2 separate regions of the Homo sapiens genome follow, and region 1 is linked to region 2. Evidence: fine-mapped expression QTL. A gene starts in region 2. The other region holds a variant in brackets. All regions are shown on one strand. Distances are from middle to middle. Region 1 has its middle 410 kb from the start of LINC02855. Region 2 holds the start of HAS2 (hyaluronan synthase 2).

The links. PIP is the estimated chance that this variant, and not a neighbour inherited with it, causes the effect. A credible set is the group of variants that fine-mapping cannot tell apart.
Region 1: its variant is the best candidate, but not a certain one, in a credible set for the expression of HAS2 in hypothalamus (GTEx, PIP 0.62).

The regions. Positions count from the first base shown.
Region 1 is chr8:122,108,221-122,111,143 of GRCh38, forward strand. No RefSeq gene overlaps it. Among named protein-coding and RNA genes, the nearest start is that of LINC02855, 410 kb to the left of the region's middle. The variant G/A (reference allele first, on the strand shown) is at 1,117.
Region 2 is chr8:121,640,184-121,643,106 of GRCh38, forward strand. It overlaps HAS2 (hyaluronan synthase 2), which reads right to left and starts at 1,257. Exons shown (of 4, transcript NM_005328.3): 1 at 670-1,257. It also overlaps HAS2-AS1. RefSeq lists an enhancer at 1,916-2,539.

The DNA of each region.
Region 1 (2,923 bases), 470 kb after region 2:
TTCATGATATCTCTTACTACACTTGTAAAATGCTTTGCACATAAGTAAACTATAGAGCAGTATACAAATGGATATTGGTGTTTAGTTATTTTTGACCAATTGTTCTCAATATTAGCTTAAAAATATGACATACTATCTTACGTAATGTTTTAAATAAAGATATATATGGAAAAAGATGACAAATTCAGATCAGTTCTACTTTTCCTATATAATGATTAAATTGTACCATGTTTTAAATGGTGCTTACGTATAATTAATTAATTATTATTTGATCTATGCCGTAGATCCTTGCCCAAGTTTTTGGAACATGGACTTTGGATGGAGATCTGGATGCAAGGACTTTAGAGTGGAATGAACCAGGGGATTCCACCTGAATTCATGTGAGAGAAGTGGGACTGGGAAGAAAGAGAAGGTGAACTGCAATGCAAGTTAAAAGGAAGCCTCAGAAATCCATGGGAAGCTCTGAAACTGGAGTGACTGTTCAGAGATAGTTTAAGTGGAAGTACAAGGCCCACTTATATTTCAGCATCAACCAGCCACTCTGTGAACACAGATGTGAGGGTGGGAATATACAATCCAGGAATGATCGCAGATGTGAGGGTGGGAATATACAATCCAGGAATGAACACAGATGTGAGGGTGGGAATATACAATCCAGGAATGAACACAGATGTGAGGGTGGGAATATACAATCCAGGAATGAACACAGATGTGAGGGTGGGAATATACAGTCCAGGAATGAACACAGATGTGAGGGTGGGAATATACAATCCAGGGAGGGGGCTCCCTTCAGGTAAAAGTATTATTAGATTGGTGCAAAAGTAATCGCAAAAGGTATTTTGCCACTTTTAATGGCAAAAACGCAGTTAATTTTGCACCAACCTAAATACCTGGGAGGGACTCGGCTTTTGCTTAACAGTAGCCTATATTTCTGGCAGAGAGAGAAAAATAGATCACAGTCCAGAGGAAGAATCTATATAGCATACCCAGCCAATCTCTGTTAAATCTAGAATAATTTTCACCAATTTTTTTCTATTCTGAGTAAAGTTGAAATCATAGAACAACATAGCATGACAGAACCTTGGAGATTATTTAATTCCACGTCCTCATTTGATT[G/A]ATGCATTAACATTAAGTATATTTTTAAGGACATAAAATATATACAGGATTAAAATCAAAATGATGTAGACTTTTTCTTGACCTCTTGACTCTTATTTTCTACTTTATTAGCACAGATAATTTTTGAAGTTGTGGGTTTTAGTCAAAGATTTGAGTTTAAAATGGGCCTGTACTATTAACTGGATGCAGTATATAATTGATAATTTTAAAATGTTTCCTGAATAAGTAATTTAATAAAAGGAAAATTCATACAATAGCCCTGAAGAGCAGGAGGCATGAAATAGCCAGCAGTACTAGCTACATGATCCTCAGTTTCTTCCTAAGTGCACATAATATTAACCTTGTGTTATGATTGTGTGAATAAATTAAGATGTGCTAAGTGCTTTTCTTAATGTTTATCATGTGGTCACTGCTTGTTGAATTCAAGTTGCCTACTGCAAATTCCTCTATGTGAGCTTTAATGCCTGAATCCAGCTTGGAGACTGATATGAATAAGCCATGAATTAACTACAAAAATGATCATTATGGCCTCAACTTTGTACAATGAATGTCAATTGTTAGTTTAAATTGGCCACTCTGTAAGATCAGACATCCATAGCCACATAATGACCATATTCATGACCAATCTGGCCTTACTCTCCCTAACAAACTTTGAATTTATGACTTCCTAACCAACTTTGAATTAATGACTTTCTAACATATCCTCAATTGTAGTGGCCATGGTCTATTCACTTTCCTATGCTTGCCACATCAATTTCTCCTTCCAGCCACGAAGTATGACGGTCCACACTAGTCTACTCCAGGAAATGAATGGTCACCTCCTTCTTATAGAGCCACATCTGAATGTCTTTTATCCCTTTTGCACACAAGGGGTCTATGCATTATTTCATTTCCTGTATTTCTTTATATTCTCTGAAGTCTTTTAGCATTTACTAATACATTGTATCCTCTTTTTTAAATCAGATGTTTGGGAGTAATTTATATATAGTAAAATTCTACTTCTGATTGTACCATTTGATGAACTTTGACAAATTTACACTGTCCTTTAACTAACACTACCATCAAGTTATAGAACATTTCCCTCACCACAAAAGAAAGTTTCCTTATGACTCTTTGTAGTTACTCCTGTACTCTCCCACCCCAACACCTGACCTTGAACCTATTTTCTGTCTCCATAGTTTTTGCCTTGTTCAGATGTCATTTAAATGGAACTGTACAATATATGTGTCTTCTGGCATTATGCCTTTTGGATGTTTCCATATTGTTCTATGTATTGATAGTTTATTTTAATGGTTAAGTAGCATTTCATTATACAAAAATGCCACAATTTGTTTATATATTTACAAAACCGATGGCTATTCAGCTTTGCTCCAGATTTTGGCTCCTATGAATAAGGTTTATGTATTTACATTCAGATCATTTTATGGAGAAATTTTTCTTTGGAAATAATTCTGAATTAGAGTGCTGGGTTACAAAGTAGGTGTATGTGTAACAGGATATGGAAATGCCAATCATTTTTCCAAAATGCCTGTACCATTTTGCATTACCACAAGCAATGTATGAGTGTTGTAGTTGCACCACATATTCACCAAACTTGGTATTGTCAATGATATTTTTCAAACTTTAGATATCAAGTAGGTATGTAGTGACATGTCATTGTGGTTTTAATTTGCATTTTCCTAATGACTAATGATTTTGAGCATCTTTTCATGCCATTCATACTCTTTGGTGGAGTGTCTATTCAAATCTATTGCTTATTTTAAGAATTATCTTCATATTAATTCCTAAAAGTATGTATATATTCTAA
Region 2 (2,923 bases):
CGAGCCTGACACTTTAATGGGGTGCGGGAAGTGCAAAGGAGGGGAGGCCCGGGAAAGGGGGGAGTGGCCGAGAGGGGATGGTAGCTGCGAGGAGGTAGAGAAGGACCCTCCTTCTCCAGGGTCCCAGCTTGTCGGAGCTGGAAGCCCAGATTGCTTAACCCTTTGCATTCCCAGCAAGAAGCGACTTTTTCACTTAGAAGTAAAACGCGCTGGGCTATTCCAGTTTTTCTCCCCACAGTGTGTGTGTGTGTGTGTGTGTGTGGGAAAAAAAGAAGGGAAGGGGTGGGGCGGCTGTGCAGAATGCATTTTCCTTACATTGGGAATTCTTGTTTCCTAACTCTGGAGCCCCTCTGCTGCTCCGGAAGATGCAAAATGGAAAAGTACATCTGAGGACGTGCAGCCTTTCCCAGGCAGAGAGGCTACCTGTGTCCCCAGAAAGGCAGCGGATTTCTGGCGAGAGCCGCAGAAATGGGAAAAGAGGGCTATGTTGCTAAGCCTGACAGTGACCTGAAATATTCCCTGATCTTCAGTCTGTTGGAAATTTTTAAACTTCCAACTTTTCTATCGAAACTGGCTTAAAAATTTTAAAACAATTATAAGGATGTCTTCCTTCTCCCTGGCCTGTTGGAGGACCTTCATCCTTCACCAAAACGCGCCAGTGTAACGTACCTTGTTCAGCTCTTGGTCATAAAGTCGTCCTCAGCCTGTCTGTGTGGTCCCGGAGGGTCGGTGGCGGGCAGTTTCCAAAATTGAGGTAATAAGAGATCAGATGAATTTGAGACGACCGGCCAAAAAAAATAAGAAATTTAAAAACAACATTTAAAAAGGATAGGGGAGTCTTAAATGTTTGATTCTTCCCCACTTTAAAAAATAATTTCACTAATATTCTCTTTATGTTTCCGTTGCACTTCAGTCTAATTCTTAAAAAAATTATGCTTTAAAAATAAATTAACTTTTCTTTTTTCTTTTCTTTTCTTTTTTTTTTTTTTTTTTTTTTGGGCTTCAGTCTTTCTGCCCCCGATAACAGAAAATCTCTTTTTCGTCTTAAAAAAAAAAAAAAAAAAAAAAAAAGCCTGTGGAAGACTCAGCAGAACCCAGGAAGCGCAGAATTGGGAGAAAAGTCTTTGGCTGGGGCTGTTTCAAGTCTCTGGTTCAATGGGCTGCTCGAAGCCAGGACTGGGTAATTCTTTCCAGACGTCTTGACTTCTCCTTCCCCGCCGTTGTTGCCCTTCTGCCTCCTCCAACTTAAGGGGGTCTTAACAAGTGAGCTGGTGGGTGTTTTAATAGGGCGGCGGAGGGAGTGGGGGGGTGAGGGAAGTGGAGAGGGAGGTGTGGACTGGGGAACCCTGAGGGGAGGGAACTGGGAGCGCGGGCGGGCGGGCGAGCGGGAGGCGGGGAGGGGGAGAGGGAGAGAGAGAAATTGGCCATTCAAAGCCTTCTCTGAGCTACAGGCCGGTTCTAAACTCCAATGAATTCAATTAACTTGATTGCTAACGTGTGCAGAGAAATGCAAGACACATAGGGGGCCACCACCTGATTCCTTACTTTCCTCTGGCGGCGGAGGTGGGAGCCCTCGCCTCTTGGATTTCCCTGAACTCCCGCGTTACAAGTTCCCTCCAAGCGATAAACTCCCTGTGGCGCTGAAGTAATTTGTTTTAAAGCCAAATGGTGCCCTTCAGCTAAGTAACCGACCCAAGGAGGAACAGTTGGGAGGGGTGTGTGCACGTGTGTGTGTGTGTGTGTAAGTGTGTGCGTGTGTGTGTGTACCTGGAGCCTTCGACAGCCGGCTGGGACTCTAAAAAGATCGCGCTGGTCCACCACTTGTTAACCCTTTCTTCCCGCCAACTCAAAAGTTTCTGAGCTGACGTCAAGTGTCAAAGCCTTTCTCATAAAGAGGTTTCTGCCGTGGGTGGGCGGAAAACATAGAAAAGTAATTATATGTATATTTTTGCTCAATCTGGTCCCCTAACGTAAACATACTCAAACAGCGCGCATTAAAAATAAAATAATAAAAATTGTTTTCTGGAGGACTTATATTTAGCCATCTTGAAGGAAATGGCTTAACTGGCTTTTGCTTTTTGCAAGCCTTCTGCAAAGTTGACGAGGACAAATATGTCTTGCTTGGAGATGGCCTTTCCTCGTCGTTTTCACAATGCCCCAAGGCTGGGTAGAGTTCGTTTTTTGGTTACTCCTCCCCCCACCACTCCGCCTCCTTTCTTTCTCTTGGACCTTGCCAACAAGCCTGCTGATGACTGAAAATGGACAGTAGGTGGCACTGTTGAGGAAAAAATGAGAGTGACTTTACAAATTAACCAACTTGGTCTTGGGAGATTGCGCTGAAATTGTTATAGGGTAAAACAGATTTTTCTTTCTTTCTTTTTTCCTTCTTCCCCTTCCAAGGATCTTCTGAGGGGTGGACTTCTTTGGAACTCGACAGGACCTTGAAGACTGGGTTCTTAGTCCTTATCACATATATGGGCTATAATGAATAAGTCTAAACAGAAAAGTCGAATAAACTGGAAATGATGCTTTCATCACGTCGCACAAGGTGTAGTGTTGGGGGATGTGATTAGGGGTCAAGCATTTTAGTGCAATACCAGGTAGTCAGCCATCCCAGTCCCCAGGGGCTGACCTGCAAAGTACTGCGCGTTTCCGCCCCCTTCCCCCCGCCCCCCCCCGCCACGCCACACACACACACAGCGGTTACACCTCTGGGAAGCATTACCTTGGCCTGATGACTTCACGCTGCTCAGGGGACCCCACTGATTTCCCCCAGCAAACCTTCCTGCTTCAGCCTTTGTTTGAACTCCGCCTTAGGTGGTTCAACTCTTGGAGAGACTGGCTTAAATTTCAGATCACAATTTCATCCCACTTAATCAGACTCGAGCTTCCTGATTCAGTTTTTTGGTAGTTTTCAAATGCT